3 separate regions of the Homo sapiens genome follow, and regions 1 and 2 are each linked to region 3. Evidence: fine-mapped QTL for protein levels in blood plasma. A gene starts in region 3. Each other region holds a variant in brackets. All regions are shown on one strand. Distances are from middle to middle.

What was found. PIP is the posterior inclusion probability: the model's chance that the variant is causal. The UK Biobank Pharma Proteomics Project read protein levels with antibody pairs (Olink). The fine-mapping took linkage between variants from a reference panel, not from the people measured, so its PIPs are less certain.
Region 1: its variant is fine-mapped to the plasma level of the CSF2RB protein (UK Biobank, PIP above 0.99). The variant lies in the coding sequence of CSF2RB. If it changes the protein, the assay may bind it differently, which can mimic a change of level.
Region 2: its variant is fine-mapped to the plasma level of the CSF2RB protein (UK Biobank, PIP above 0.99).

The regions. Positions count from the first base shown.
Region 1 is chr22:36,927,017-36,932,016 of GRCh38, forward strand. It overlaps CSF2RB (colony stimulating factor 2 receptor subunit beta), which reads left to right. Exons shown (of 14, transcript NM_000395.3): 5 at 2,386-2,543; 6 at 2,623-2,791; 7 at 3,359-3,494; 8 at 3,657-3,814. Among named protein-coding and RNA genes, the nearest start is that of CSF2RB, 16 kb to the left of the region's middle. The variant C/T (reference allele first, on the strand shown) is at 2,775.
Region 2 is chr22:36,933,074-36,935,500 of GRCh38, forward strand. It overlaps CSF2RB (colony stimulating factor 2 receptor subunit beta), which reads left to right. Exons shown (of 14, transcript NM_000395.3): 10 at 759-921; 11 at 2,278-2,368. Among named protein-coding and RNA genes, the nearest start is that of CSF2RB, 21 kb to the left of the region's middle. The variant A/G (reference allele first, on the strand shown) is at 2,190.
Region 3 is chr22:36,911,575-36,920,543 of GRCh38, forward strand. It overlaps CSF2RB (colony stimulating factor 2 receptor subunit beta), which reads left to right and starts at 2,054. Exons shown (of 14, transcript NM_000395.3): 1 at 2,054-2,103. LOC105373023 (a long non-coding RNA gene) reads right to left here. Exons shown (of 2, transcript XR_938230.2): 2 at 6,898-7,365. RefSeq lists an enhancer at 1-588.

The DNA.
Region 1 (5,000 bases), 13 kb after region 3:
TGACTAGTCCAAGGCCTCTCTACTGCTGCTGGCAGAGCTGAGATCCAGTGCAGGATGGTCTGAGTCCCCGGTCCTAACCACCGAACCACCTGGTGCTCTTTGCAAGGGTCACACGGAAGGGGCTCTGACCATGGCTTCCTGCCCTTTTTTGCCACAACATCATAAAGCCACTGCCAGAGGAGGGGATCAGTTAGGCCACCAGGAGTCCATCAGAAGCAACATTTCCACACATGGGTTTGATGGACACGAGAGTCCCTTCCTTCCCGAATGGAGCTCAGGGGGCCCAGGCTGGAGGGAGGGGAAACACTGTATGCCGTCCACCGTGAGAACTTACTGACAGTGGCGGGTGGGTGCCTCATGCAGGGGGTAAAGGGCAGGGCCCCTGGGAGATCAGAACAGGCTTCCCAGAGGGAAGAGCTTTGCAACTCAGATCTGAAGGGTAGACAGGAGGGGAGGGCAGTAAGAGCCTCTCTGGCAGGGTAACAGCTGTGCAGAGGCTGGGGGATCAGAAGGGCATGGGCAGCTGGGGAACCTGCTCACCATTGTGTCCAGGGAGCATCAGCTTCAAGGGCTGGACAGCGGTGGGAAGAAGCAGGAGACACAGGTAAGGACCTGTCCCTGGAGAGGCTTCTGTCTCCTGCAGTCTCAGGTAGAGGGGACCCTCTAGGCATGGAGAGCACTGAGGGGAAATGACATGATCAGATGTGGATGTGAGAATGCTGGGGACAGGGGACTTACAGGGTAGATTGGAGGAGCATTAGTTGGGAAAGAAGTTGAAATTCAGGCTGTGGCCTAAAGCACTCATTCCTAGAAATGATGAGGACACAACTGGCTAGGAGATGGGGACATGAGGGCATGCAAATCATAGTTCAGATATACACACAATTCATTCATTCAACCTTCTTTCCTTGAGCGCCTACATAAGCCAACGAAGCAGTCAACAAACCAGCCAGCAACCCTGCCCTTGGAGCTTACAGCCTGGAAACAAGGAAGGTTTCTAAGGCGATGGAGACAACTTAGATATAGGGAGAGAAGTGTGGCCCTTGGCCTCCTGGAGCCTGTGTTGAGTAGCGAGGTAGGGTCCAGCCTAATGCAGATTAGCAATGAATCAAGGATGCTGGGAGGTACTGGGCAGGCGACAGGCATGCATCTGATCTGCTCTGAGTCTCCATGTTTGGAGACCTTGGACATTTTACTTCCTCTATGAGTTTCTCCGTCTGTGAAATGAGCTGGTGGACTCAAGAGGTTTCTCTTGAGTTGGCTGAGCAGGTTTCTGATGGGGCTCCCAGTCTGCGCAGTTTGTGGCAGCTTCCGAGAGGGCTCTGCCGGGAAGAGCTCCCCCTCCATGACAGCCTCGGGGGCTGGGAGTGCAGTGACCCATGAGGGACGCCTGTCCTGGCTGTGGGTGAGGAGGGGCGGTTCCCCTGCTGTGTGTCTGCCGTTCTGGGTTGATGGTTCCTGACATGCTCTAGCATGCCATAACCCATGTCCAGCAGAGAGCACTTACATCCTATGTGTGAGGATGTTTTCGTTTGAAAGCCATCCCTCAGCAAGCAGACACCAGAAACCAGAAATCAGGTGCCGTGTCTTCATTCTGCATTTTCTTGAACAACCCAGAGTTCCCAGGAGATAGATGCTTGCCTTGTGGCTGCAAGGATTTCATGAGAAGCCCCAAAGTTGCTTACGCGTATTTGTTCATTCATTCACTCATTCACCTTGCCCCATAATTCACTGAGAAGCCGCATCTCAGCCTGGAGGTAGGGAAGGGGGTCAGGACCAATCCCACCCACCCCCATCTCCTCACACCTTAGGGGAGGCAGACACAGAAGCATAGGAATCCCTCAGCTGTGGTAAGGCCCTGGTGGAGGGAATTCCACTGAGCTATGGTGAAATGAGAGAAGGAATGAGGGATTCCGCCTGGAGATGCAGATCCGAGGATGTTCCTAGAGCCGGAGGCATTTGCCCGGGGCACTGACAACAGGAAGGACCCTGGGCAGGAGGAAGGGAGCTTGGACAGCAGGAGGGGGGAGGCCGCTGAACCGCAGGCCCCTCTGCTAGCAGGAGCCACCCAGGCCGCAGCGTGGGCAGTGGGGAGCCTCAGGACAGAGGAGGCTCCAATGAGTTTCCTCGCCAGCGCTTTTTATGGAGTTCGGGTCACGTGCGCATTGCAATCTGCACGGCTTTCCATTGCTTTCATGTTGAAACCCTACAGTTTTGCAGATGAAGGGCTGAGGCTCACAGAGGAGACGGGTCTTGCTCAAGGTCCCTCAGCTGCTGGGGGCAGGGGTGGCCTGGAACCCCCTGTGTCCACACAAAAGGCCATGCAGGCCCTGACTGCCCCCCAGCGGTCCAGCCCTTAGGTGCCCTTCACTTCCTCCCCTCCAGTCCAGCCTCCTGAGCCCAGGGACCTGCAGATCAGCACCGACCAGGACCACTTCCTGCTGACCTGGAGTGTGGCCCTTGGGAGTCCCCAGAGCCACTGGTTGTCCCCAGGGGATCTGGAGTTTGAGGTGGTCTACAAGCGGCTTCAGGACTCTTGGGAGGTAGGAACCACGGCCAGCTCTGCCCCAGCCCGAAGGGATGGGCAGCACCCCTCCTCCAGCACCCACTGTCTCCTGACAGGACGCAGCCATCCTCCTCTCCAACACCTCCCAGGCCACCCTGGGGCCAGAGCACCTCATGCCCAGCAGCACCTACGTGGCCCGAGTACGGACCCGCCTGGCCCCAGGTTCTCGGCTCTCAGGACGTCCCAGCAAGTGGAGCCCAGAGGTTTG[C/T]TGGGACTCCCAGCCAGGTAATGTTGCCAGAGCCCAGGAAATGCCCCGTGGTGGGAGGGCAGGCTCATCAGGAGCTCCTGGCACAGCAGGGTTCCTGGGCTCCACCTGGGGGCTTCCCAGATCTCCTGCTGCCATCTTTCCAGTAGCGTCCCTGGGCCGTCCCACCTCTACTGTGACCACTGACCAGTAGGACTCTGCATCTGTTCACTTTGGGTTTCCAGTTTTCTGCACGTTCTCTGCCAATGGCAATTACAATAATAACAACAACAGTGCTATTAGCAGCTGTGTGTTAATGGAGGCTACAGGATGCTCAGGGCTTACCCACATTTTTCAGTTCAATCCCCAAACACTGAAACTTAGATACTATTTCCATTCTCCCGGGAGGGCGTGCAGGTGCACAGAACTCTCTCTCTCTCTCTCGGAGCTGTTGGACACACAGCTGGCAGGTTCAGGCTGAAGTTTCAGCCCTGGTCTTTTGGCCCCAGAGCTCATGACCTCTGTGTGATGAATCACACGGTGGGCACCCACTGAGAGCTATGGGAGGGATGAATGACGGAGTACATGAGGACCTGTCTCCAACCCAGGGGATGAGGCCCAGCCCCAGAACCTGGAGTGCTTCTTTGACGGGGCCGCCGTGCTCAGCTGCTCCTGGGAGGTGAGGAAGGAGGTGGCCAGCTCGGTCTCCTTTGGCCTATTCTACAAGCCCAGCCCAGATGCAGGGTGAGCATCTTTTTTCTCCATCCCCTCCCCTCCTCTTGGCCTTGCTCTCTCCAAGCTTCCTCCTGTCCCTGGGGCCCCAGCAGAAGCCACAGCCCACCCTAAGCTCTCCTCCCTCCCGTGTGCCCTCCCTCTCCCTGCCCTCAGCTCTGCTGTGCTCCTCAGGGAGGAAGAGTGCTCCCCAGTGCTGAGGGAGGGGCTCGGCAGCCTCCACACCAGGCACCACTGCCAGATTCCCGTGCCCGACCCCGCGACCCACGGCCAATACATCGTCTCTGTTCAGCCAAGGAGGGCAGAGAAACACATAAAGAGCTCAGTGAACAGTGAGTTTGCTCCTAGCCCGCTGTGGGGATGGTCTGGGACCAGCACACCCTCATTGTGTAACCCGAATCAGTTCAGGGTTCCTCCTGGCCCCGTCTTCATGTTTGTCACTTTCAAAGAGATGCAGTCCAGTGACCAAAAGTGAACAGAGAAGCAATGAAACCACGACGGCAGTGGCCAAAAACAGGAGCAGATCTTTAAAACCTCTGATCTCTTGTCCTTTTCTTCTGCTTCCCTCTCCCATCCTGCAGCTCTCTAAATCTCCACTGCTAGCCACACCCTCCTGGTCCTGTCACCAAAACCTTCCCTTTCATTCCTCATTGGATTTTCCTCTTTCTGATATCCGAAATTCCCCACCGACTGATATTCTATCTTTAATGTAATTGATCTATGATGTACTTTTCAACTGGAGCCTGTGGTGTGTACAAATAGTGTTGATCCTTGGAGGTTAACATCCCTCGTTTCTGTGATGTAACAAGGACCCCAGTGCAATGGAACCTCTCACGTTGTTTCATGATGACCAAGTTCTTCCATCCAGTCTTTAGCATATGTGAAGGGCAGAGGCCAATTTGTCTTAATTACCTGGGTTTGAATTTACCATTAACTCTCTTGGGATCCTCACTGGAAAAAGGAATTCTGATTGTTCAAAAGCACAGGATATATTAAGGGCCTCATATAATGCCTGGCACATAAGAGACCTCAGCAAATTACGGGCATTCATATTATGTTTATACAGTGAAGGCATCAAGGTTATAAGCATTCTCTTTTTTCTTTTGGGTAGACTGAAGCTCAGAGAGGTTGAGTGGCTTACTTAAAGCTGCACAGCTATTAGTAGGCAGATCAAGATTAGAGTTCAGAACTTCTCACTCCCTGCCCAGTTTCTGCTTTCTTTACCCTTTGCCTCTTTCAAGTTGTGGGTCTGCCGGCCAGGTGGGAGGTGCTGTCTGCAAAGGGCTTCCCTTTCTCTTTGGCCACTATCTGGCTGGGGAGAGGCCTCACCTAGATGTTGTTGAAGGCCTGTTACAGCCGCTTTATTGGGGATTTTCTGGCGATGAGAACGTGTGAATGTCCTGGCCTTTAGTCAACTCCCTACACCTCTGAGAGTGTCAGACAAGAGAGCCCATCACACTGGTGGGATTGCAATCTTTGCCTCTACCACTGCTTAGCTGCCTTTCCTTAGGGCAAGTT
Region 2 (2,427 bases), 18 kb after region 3:
GTCTCTTGGTGAAGTAACTGAGGTTTGGAAAAGTGGCGTGGCTTGGCCAACGTGAACAGCTGACCCTGAGTCCCCAGGCAACAGAAGACCCTCTGGGCAGGGAGGGGTTGAAAGGCCACTGGGAAGAAGGTTTTCAAAAGTCATGAAAGTTTGGGGTTATTTCCTCAGAGGAATCTCATCTGGACACACATGGAGGCTCAGACAGAGCTGCTTCTAATGAGTCGGGGGTGCGCCCAGGCCAGGGCTCGGTCCCCTGCCTCCACAGAGCCCAGAACAGAAACCACAGAACCAACCCCACACCTTCAGTCTAGAAATGGGGCAACTGAGGCTAGGAGGGAGGTGGGCCAGTGGTGGAGCCAGGAGCGGGCCCTGGGGTCCTGAACCCCCATTCTCAGGGTCCAGAGTCCAGTCGGCCTGCACTGCGTTCCTAAAAAGGCCACAATATGGGTGCAAGCTGCCCCAGAAGGGCTGGGAGCTGAGAAGGCTCAAAATAGGGTGGGACAGGTGGCTTCAGGGTTCTGGGCCTCAGTGTTGTCAATGTCAGGGGCTGCACTGACAGGTGGAGTCCCCGGTGCCATCCGAAGTGCTGTCCGTGGGTGGGCCCTCAGGGAGGATCCACGGTGGTGAGAGAGAAGCCGCAGCAGGCCTGGGGTATGGCAGGAGCTAGGAGCCAGCGAAGCCGAGGGTCCAGGTGGGAGGGATTTGCAGCTGCTCCCACGGGCACCGGGCCAGGCCTCACCCTCAGTGCCAACCCACAGGACAGCAAGACCGAGACCCTCCAGAACGCCCACAGCATGGCCCTGCCAGCCCTGGAGCCCTCCACCAGGTACTGGGCCAGGGTGAGGGTCAGGACCTCCCGCACCGGCTACAACGGGATCTGGAGCGAGTGGAGTGAGGCGCGCTCCTGGGACACCGAGTCGGGTAGGTGAAGGCTGGAGTCCAGAGCTTCTGGCCAGGACCAGCTCATAGTTTCTCACTGCCAGAAAATCCCCAATGCAGCAGCCGTAGCAGGCCTGCAACAACTTGTAGGTGAGCCGTCTCCCCGATTAGATGGTGGCCAAAGAGAAAGGGAAGGCCTTTGCAGAGAGCACCTCCCACCTGGTCATCAGACCCGCAAGTTGAAAGAGGCAAAGAGTAAAGCAGGCAGAAACTGGGCGTGGAGTCAGAAGTTCTCCACCCACTCTTCATGAGACAGCACAGCTGGGCAGAGGATGCCACATCTCTGGGTGGGCACAGAGATGTGGGGCTCCAGACCCCACTCCACTCAGGCCTCCTTCCCTCCCTTGGACCACTAGTCGTTGGAAAGTGACACCTGGTGTTCAGTACAGACTGCAAGTGAGGACTTGAGGGAGCAGAGGAGAGCAGGTCTCATGATCGCTCCTCCTTTAAACTGGGACTTAGGCTTCTGTTAATATGGCCCTTGGTTTCTTAGCTTTTGGGACTACCAAGTTTTTGTGGTTGCTCAGCCCGAGTTTCCTGTTACCATGGAAGCAAGAAAATCTAGAGCCACAGACTGGGTCCTTGGATTGGAAGGTTTTGCTGTGATTCCTTCATCTTCCCACCTCCCTGCACTTGCTGCGTGCACTGACCCCTCACCTTTCACCACAGTGACCACCAGGCGACTCCCGCAGAACAAGACAAGTCCAAGGGGTGGTTTCAGAGAGAGTAAGGATACAGGAGATATTGGGAGCAACCCAAGTCCCCAGCCAGGCTTGGTAGCGGCAGGGGCCCAGGGAGAGGGCCACAACCAGGTAGAAAGGAGGCCGGACCAATGGGCCCAAGAGAGGAGGAAGAGGGGAGTCCTGGAGGAACCTGGCCTGGGAGCTCAGGGCTGGGCAGCAGGTGGGATCAGGGGCCTCTGGAGGGGCCTTTGCTCCTGCTGGTGCCTCTGCCACTATGCCTTTCCCCATCTCCACCTCTAATCCTTCCTATTACTGGAGGCCCAGCTAATATGCCACCTCCTTCAGGAAGTCCCCTGTGATTGCCATGAACAGTGGTTCTTGCCCTCCCTGTAGCACCTCCTGTGCTATAGATCCTGGAAAGGATCTGACCCTCCTGTGTCCTCCCAGCACTTTGAACACTGTGGGGGTTCAGACCAATGCCCTTCCCAGCATGGATCTGGCCTCTCTCCCCTAATCCCCCAAGGCAGTAAGTTCCAGAGCCCTGGGCCTGCACAGAGCGGGGTCTTA[A/G]GGAATACTGCACCAACCCCACTCCCTGCCCTGAGGTCGATTTCCCGCCCAGATGCTGACATTCCTCTTTCTCCCCGGCTGCTGGAAGTGCTGCCTATGTGGGTGCTGGCCCTCATCGTGATCTTCCTCACCATCGCTGTGCTCCTGGCCCTCCGCTTCTGTGGCATCTACGGGTACAGGTGAGGGGACTCTGTGGGGCTGGAGGTGGCAGCCGAGACCCCAGAGGGCACTGGGGAAT
Region 3 (8,969 bases):
TGAGAGTTCTTTGTATCATTCCTTTAACGCTCTGTATTTTGAAATAGTTTCAGAATAAAAATGGAAATGGAAAAAAATGCAATGTTAACATATACGAGTTACTACTTTCAACAAGTTATCTTCCTTTTCATGCCTCAATTTCTTCATCTGTAAGGTGAAGACAGTAACAGCTACATAAAGGTTATTGGGAAGAGATGGAGAAGCCCCCAGCCGAAGGTCTGCTCACAGCGTAAATGCTCAAGCCCTGGTCATTATGAGTACTACGTTCTTGCCAACATTTTCTTGGGTTTCTTAGTCTCTAAAAGATCGTCAATTGCAAGACACGGTATTTTACATACCACTGAAGGAAAAAACAAACAAACAAACGAAAACATTCAATGAATTCCTGACGGTGTGATTCTTCTCGCTTAGAACTTTTAATACTTATTGAGAGAACTCTGTTAGACTCATTCAAATGTAGATTTTTATCCCCTGCTGCTCTATGATGACTTTTAAAAGGAAAGGGTCAGTCAAGTGAATTGGCTGAGGTGTTCCTAAAGCTCCTTCACATTTTGGGTCTGGTGTCCGGAGTGATTTTGACTCAGAGTCTCGGGTTCTTCGTTTCTCCACCAGACAGCATCCTCTGTGCTCCTGAGGGCATCCAGGCCCGCAGCCTCCCAGTCCCACAGAGGACCTCAGCAAAGACAGGCAGAGTGGGGACACCTGGGAGAAAAGAGAGCCCGGGACGTCACTTTAATTCCATCCTCTCCAGCCCTGGAGAAGCCCCTGCAGGGTTTTTCCATGCCAGGCAGGGACCTCACACTGACCGGAGTGCCTGAGAGAACCACACATGCCTTCCTCTACCCTGGGCTTTCTCTGCTAGGGTGAGGCCCTGCCAGCTCTTCCTGGCCAACCCTGCCCTTCCTGGTAGGAGGAAAGCAAAGAACAACAATCAGGCCAGAATTCCAGTGGCTTCGAGGCAGGTTCCTGCCCCTCCATTTCCTCCATTCCCCTCATTCTTGCCCTCCATTCCCCTCATTCCTGCCTGCTGCCCTTTCTCCTGGGAGGCAGCCCCATGTAGGAGAAATATGACTGCGTTTTGTTGTGTCTTGGCACTGTGATTCATCTTGTCTTTATTCAAACTTTTCATATTTGGTTCACCGTGAATAGTTTCTGCATCAGTTGGGATTTTTTTAAACCATATTGCATTAAAATATTACTTACAACAATTACTGAATTTTTAAATGCCTGTTTAAATTTTGAGCACGAGAGACTGCCTCACTCACCTGACCTTAATTCTGCTGGCCCTGCTGTGCTCAGGGAGCCACTCATTCATTCATTCATTCATTCATTCATTCATTCATTCATCTATTCATTTGCACACAGTCAAAGGTGCAATTTCTCCTCTGTACCAGGCCATGTGCTAGGTATTTGGGAGGGAAGTGCAAGCCGGACACAAGCCAGCACTGAAGATAGTGTCAGAAGAAAGACAGCCATGAACACACATGACCATATGACACATGGTGGGGTGGGGCGGCAGGGCAAAGAGGACATCGGGGAAATCAACATGCCACCAGCTACCACTTGTAGGGGGTTCTCCTGTGGCCAGCTCTGAGCTAAGGTCTTCCTGCACAGAATCTCACTGGATTCCCTCAACAGTCCTTCCAGGTTTGTAGATGCTTCTGCAAAAGTAACAGACAGATGGATGTCCCGAGGCTTGGGGAAGTAACACGCAGATGATTTGCACAAGGACACGCTTTAAGAAGCAGTGGACTTGGAAGTCCAACACAGATCTGTCTGGCTCTGGGCTCAAACCAGCTATGGTTATTGCAGCCACTTCCACCTGCATCCCCATCAAGCAGTCAGGGAAGGCTGCATGGAGGAGGCCCTGCGTCAGCTGAGGCTTGAAGGAGGCCTAGGAGTTTATAGGAAGGTAAATTGGAGTAGGAGGCTTTCTGGAAGTAAGAAAAGTCACGTGCACTATTAGCAAAGTAGGCCTGGGCCGGCACTGCTTCCTCTTTCTGCTTCTCTGTTTCCTGATGACATCAACATAAATAGGAAACGTGGGAGGCTCACTCTGCCTAGAGGCTCCAGAAGAAGACTGGTCTCTCCCACCACACAGAGGTATGGCCCGGCGTCCAGGAGCAGGGCTGAGGGGTGGGGTCAGAGCAGGGGGGAATGTGGGGAGTCCAGGATGAAAAAGGACAGGGGGAGCCTGGGGGGCGTCCTGTGGGTAGCTGTGCCCTGGGGACTTGGAGGAGTTAGGGCTTGGCCTCTTAGGATGACCTGAGCCCAGACTCCTAGGGCGGCCAGTGGATGGGGAGGCAGCCAGGGGTGCCAAGCTGCTTGGGTGTTGTAGGAGAGCTCTGGGGAGGACTCAGCCTCGCTAGCGGGATCTGGTTGGTCCTGGTGGGAAGGACGCCTAGTGGGGTGAAGAGAGCTCAGGCCTGGGAGTCAGGCACCTATAGTCTGTCTTCGCTTTGTCACTAAGATGCTGGTGGTAGTGAGAGCACCCCCTGTCCACCCTGGGCTTCTGTCTCCTCATCTGTGGAATGGGGAGCATGGATAGTCCCTGACATCTTGGTTTAGAAAGAGAGAGAACGCATGCTCGTGTGTTTGCCCGTGTGTGCATTTGTGTGTGTGCCTGTGTGTGTATGTGCATGTGCGGATGTCTGGGGATGCAGGAGTGCAGAGAGACTAAGAGGCAGAGGGTGAAACCTGGAAGCTTGCTGCGCTGAGGCCCAGAGCTGGGTGCGGTGTGGCTTGAGAAGCTCACTTTGAACTTGAGAAAGAGCCCAGCACTTTGCCCAGAGACATACCAGGCACTATCCAGCAATCTCTCTCTCTCTCTCTCTCTCTCTCAGTCTCTCTCTCTGTCTGTCTGTCTTTTTAGTTATGACACTCTGCCCTGCTGATTTGGGTTGCTGATTTGGGTTGGGGCCCAGGTGTGTGTGTTCTGTACCCAAGTATGCTGGCTGGGTGGGTGGGTATCTGGGGTGCCTGCTTCAGGGTGTGTGCAGGTGTGTGTACTGGCCCTGAGAATGAAAGGGCAGGTGTTTCACTGGGACCTTGTCAGACAGGTGCTAGCGACAAGCTGCATATGTGCAATTTTTAGTCTTCAAAAACCCTGCTGTTATATTTTTGTACAGCCCAATTCTAATTTTTTTCTATCATCTTTCCTGCTTTGTAATCATTTTATAATGAGTAAACATTTCCTATTAGCTTTTGGTCACTCTTTTTTTCATCCAGCAGTTTTATTTATATTGTTCCAGTATACAGATATACCAACACCACAGGATAATTCATGAGTTGTATAAGGAATGTATTTAATGCTAAACAAGCAACTACACAGAAACCTACCTTCATGAAAATTAGAATAATCTAGAATTATGTAGCACAAGAGACAAAGTCCCCAGCAATTTCTTTTCCCTAGTTCCATAGCTTATTCTTTTCACCACATGTATTCTTCCAGAACATTTTCTAAGCATGATACAAGCATATAGTTTTTCTTTTCCTGTTTGTTTTTTGTTTTGTTTTGTTTTGTTTTTGTGACAGAGTTTTACTCTTGTCGCCCAGGCTGGAATGCAGTGGTGCAATCTTGGCTCACTGCAACCTCTGCCTCCCGGGTTCAGGTGATTCTCCTGCCTCAGCCTCCTGAGTAGCCGGGATTACAGGCATGAGCCACCACACGTGGCTAATTTTTGTATTTTTAGTAGAGACAGGGTTTCACCATATTGGCCAGGCTGGTCTCGAACTCCTGACCTCAGATGATCCGCCTGTCTCAGCCTCCCAAAATGCTGGGATTACAGGCTTGAGCCACTGTGCCAGGATGGTAGTTTTTCTTTTTACAGAAATGGGATTATTTTATTTATATATATATATATATATTCCTAATTTTTTCACTTAATATTGTATTTTGGAATATTTCCAAATTTCTACAATAATACATACAGATTTAACTCGTTAAGTAACCCTAAGAAATATGTGGCATTTATTAGGATGGGTACACCACAATTCATCTAATCTCACGTTGATCGACACCTAGATTGTTTCTAATTTTTCCACATCTGTGAAAGTGTTTCTGTAGCCTAAATTACTAAATGCAGAATTGCTGTGCAGAGGTTGTGCGTTAGAAATTATAATAGGTATTGTCAAATCAGCCTCAAAGTAGCTGAGCTAAGCTGACGTCCCCAAGGTAGTGCATAAAGGGTCCAATTTACCTTTAGAGAAATTATCAATCTTCTAATTTTGTCCAATATTATGTATGGAAATTCTCAATGTCGCGTGATTTTTTTCTTTCCCTGATTATGGGTGAAGTTGTACATTTTCTATATGTGGATTGGCCTTTTGGATTTCATTTATGATGAATGTGGAGAAATTTTTGTTCATCTCCTGTTGAATTCTCTTTTACATCTTAACTTTTGGAGTGACTCATTTATTACGTGTATTAATAATCCATTTATATATGTTGAAAATATATTCTCCCAGGTTATGACTTATCTTTTTCTTTACCATGTTTAAGATGTCTTATGTCATATAAAAATGTTTTCATTGTTAAGTCAAACCTGTCATTACTTTTTACTTTATGGTTTCTGATTTTGGTGTCTTGTAAACCTCTAAGATCACAGGTGTCTTGTAAACCTCTTTTTACTTTATGGTTTCTGGTTTGGTGTCTTGAAACCTCTAAGATTACAGAAAGAGTTTTAATAATTTTACTATTTTGGTTTTGACTTTGAGATTTTTAGCCCACCTAGAATTTAGAGAAGTGAGTAATGTGTAAAGTAACTTTTAAAAATAATTACCATCTAATTGTCTTAACATTGCTAATTATGAGTGTGTGATTTCTCCTCTCTTCAATGATTTGAAGTGCCCCTATTACATCCTAGGCTTCTATACATACTTCGTTATTTTCTTTATTGTTTTCTCTTCCATTTGGCTGTCACTACATTCCTTATTATTTTTCTAACGAATGGAGCAAGTCTCTCATCTCTGGTTTGTTATAATTTAGAATCAGTTTGCCAAGGCCAGGCACAGTGGCTCATGCCTATAATCCCAGCACTTTGGGAGGCTGAGGCAGGCAGATCCCTTGAAGTTGGACGTTCAAGACCAGCCTGGCCAACACGGTGAAACCCCATGTCTACTAAAAATACGAAAAATTAGCCGGGTTTGGTGGTGTGCACCTGTAATCCCAGCTACTTGGGATGCTGAAGTGGGAGAACTGCTTGAACCCAGGAGGCAAAGTTTGCAGTGAGCCGAGATCACGCCACTGCACTCCAGCCTGGGCAACAGAGTGAGACTCCAACTCAAAAATAAAAATAAAAATCAGTTTGCCAAGCCCATTAAATTCCTTTTTGGAATTTTCATGTTGATTGCATTGAATTTAGAGATGATCTGAGGGACATTGACCACTGGAAGTAAAGACAATAGTGAGAGCCTCCTGTGTGAGGCTTTGACAGGAGGACACTAACGTGCCCCCTTGACTCTGTCATCGCCTTTGGTTTCTGGCAGACTTTCAGTGATGCCAACGTTTCCGCCACTGCTTCATTTGCCAGGGTTTGTTTGTTCATTTAACCAGAAATGTCTTGTTTATTATTAAATATTTAGGAGTGTCTGTCAAGATCAGCTTATCCTTTTTTCCCTTTTAATCCGTTCATCTGTTTGTTTGAATCATAAATAGGTTTCTTAAGGGTTCTCCTTCCATGTATGGAGTACCCTCTACTTGGCCATGATGTCTTCTTCTTTTAAAAGTCTTTGTCAGGTTGACCTATGAAATTGTTTTTGTCTGGAGTGAATTTGTATTTTGCTTTTCCCCCCTAGTTTTTATCCCTGCCATTCAATTTCTTCATAAGCTTGGGAATGTTTATCCCTGCCATTCAATTTCTTCATGAGCTTGGGAATGTAATATGTGCATGTTTATTTTGAGTAAGAAGGTGTTTGGTTTTTCTCTTCTCTTTTCTCTCTCTTCCTTTCTCTGTCCCTCCCATCCCTTCTCTGTCATCCTCCTGTCCCCATGCTTACTCTTCATTCTTAGTGATTTTTAATCTTTATGTTTTTAGGGATTTAAAATGTATTGAACTTATATTTTCTGGGTCGGGCACAGTGGCTCACGCCTGTAATCCCAGCACTTTGGGAGGCCAAGGTGGGCAGATCACTTGAGGCCAGGAGTTGAGACCAACCTGGCCAACATGGTGAAACCCAGCCTCTACTAAAGATACAAAAACTAGCCAGGCGTGGTGGTGCATGCCTGTAGTCCCAGCTACTTGGGAGGCTAAGTCACAAGAGTCGCTTGAACCCCGGAGGCAGAGATTGCAGTGAGCCGAGATCATGCCATTGCACTCCAGCCTGGGTGATGGGGTGAGATTCTGTCTCAAAAAAAAAAAATAGTATTTTTTTTAAAGAAACCATATTTGCTACCAGCATTTGGGTTTATTTAGCACATATATGATCTTCCAAAACAAGAGGAGATCTTTAGCAAGTTTTCAGTTCTCTTCCATTCTCCACCCCAGCCTCACAGCAAACTCCCACATTAAAATCATCTGAGTTTTAGTTCAATATTCTTCTTTAACTTATCTGTAAGTGTTACAGGTTTATTTACCTCAGTATTTCAGCTTTCTTGGATTTTTTTTTCCTGAAATATAACCTAGAGTAATTTCTTTCAGAAAAGATCTGAAAAACTTTCTTTGTCCTTACATACTCAAAATTTTTTGTGTCCTTTAAATGTCAAAGAAAACTTGGCATTTTGTGATTCTAGGTTTAAGCATAATTTTCCCTTGGTATTTTCAAGACATCTATTTAAAGTTCAGAGTCTCTTATGTGAAATCTTTAGCCAATCTGACCCTTGTTGCATTCAAAGTATCCTATTTGTTTTCTTCTGGAAGCATTTCTGGGATCATCCTCATATTCTTGCAAGACGAAAAGTTTACCAGTGAGAACTAGGCATGGCTTTATTAAAAGGAATCTTGGGAGTTAACCCTGATCTCTGTCCCCTACTACAAAACCTCATCGTAGTAGCCTCCCCCCTTGAATACAGATTCCTTACTGTCTTTGAAAAATATTTTAAAAAGGAGTCTTGTTCTTTATTGAGTGGCCTCTTGTCTCCTTGAAAGCCCTGTGAAGCTTTCCCCATTTGCTGTTGTATCTGTTTGGCTGCACATGGAAAATCCCTAAGCAACAGAGGCTTAACAACATAGAAGTTTCTTTTTCCCAGCATATAAAAGATGCCCAGAGGTAGCAGTTTCAGGCTAGTATGGTTGCTCCAGAGTGAGAGTGGGAATCCAGCTTCCTCTCTTTCTGTTGCATCATCTTCACATATGGCTTCCATCCTCAAGGTAACCTCATGGTCCAAAATAGCTGCTGAAGCTCCAGCTATCACCTCCAAGTTGCAGGCTGGAAGAAGGAAGAAAGACAGAGGGACAAAAATGAACCCCTCCCACCTAAGTCAACTGCCATTGAGCAGCCTTTTTTGGAAGACATACACAATGTTTCTATTCTCATCTCCTTGGATCACGTTTAGTCACTTGACTGCACCTAGTGGCAACGGAGTATAGGAAGGAAATAGACCTTTTTATTCTGTGTAGCAATAAACTCAGCTAAAACCTTGGCTTCTGTTGCCAGGAGGAAAGGGACACGGTCTTCCATTGTCTTTCAGACTAGGTAGCTGACATTGTCTGCCATACCTGCTCTTAATTCTCTCCACCCCCTGCTTCTGAATGCTGGAATTTTTGAATTTCTTTCCCAAACCTAAAGTTTTCTCTAAGACTTTTCATCTCCTTGACTATTTGCTCTATTTTATATATCTATCTTTTTCATTTGTGGTATCCATTCTGTGGTTTGGCCCACTATTGATTGTTGTTGTTTTTTTGTTTGTTTGTTTTTTTGAGACAGAGTCTCAGGCTGGAGTGCCATGGCAACGGTCTCAGCTCACTGCAACCTCCACCTCCCAGGTTCAAGCAATTCTCCTGCCTCAGCCTCCAGAATAGTTGGGATTACAGACGTGCGCCACCATGGCCAGCTATTTTTTTTTTTTTTTGCGTTTTTAGTAAAGACGGGGTTCTACCACGTTGGCCAGGCTGGTCTCAAACTCCTGACCTCAAGTGATCTGCCCACCTTGGCCTCCCAAAGTGCTGGGATTACAGGCGTGAGCCACCGCGCCCAGGCTTTGATTGATTTTTTTTTAAATTATGGATCTCATATCTTCAAATTCCAAGAACTCTGTTCTTTGCATAGAAGTGTCTTCTTTTAAATGGCTATGATTCTCAAATCTCCCTGAGGATGCTGATTTAGATGTCTTAATGTACTCTTTTATTTTTGCTGTATCTGTACATGTCTGTAGAAGTGTCTGCTGGGTTAGCATATGTCAGAATAGATGTGCGCTGTTTTGACATTTGGGAAACTGAATCACTATTGGCATAGAGGTCAGGGACAGAGTCTAGAGGCAGCCCACTGCGGGCTCGAATCTCAACCTGTTCCTTACCAACCGTGTGACTGTCGACCAATTACATAACATCCCACCCCTGTTTTCTCATCTACGAAGTGGAGCTTCTAGTGGTAACCTATACATAGATGTATTCATATCCGTAAAACCTTTTGAATAATGCCTGGCTCATGGAAAACACTGCAATATTGTCAGCCACTATCATGAATTCTCTCTGTGTATGTGAGTATTGTTTGTGCTCTTTGATGATATTGATTTGTTTTAACCTTTTAAAGTAAAAGACACTAACCTGTCCTCCATAATTCTGGTTGGTATGGTCTATATGTTGAAGTGCACCCAAGTTTATGTTGCAACCTAATCCCCAATGTGAGAATATCTGGAGGTAGTGCCTGTGGCACCCTATAAAATACCCCAGCGAGCTCCCTTGCTTATTCCATGTGAGATTATAGGGAGAAGACTGCAAGGAACAGGCCCTCACCAGATAGTGAATCTGCCCGCACCTTGATCTTGAACTTCCCAGCCTCCAGAACTATGAGAAATAAACTTTGTTACTAGT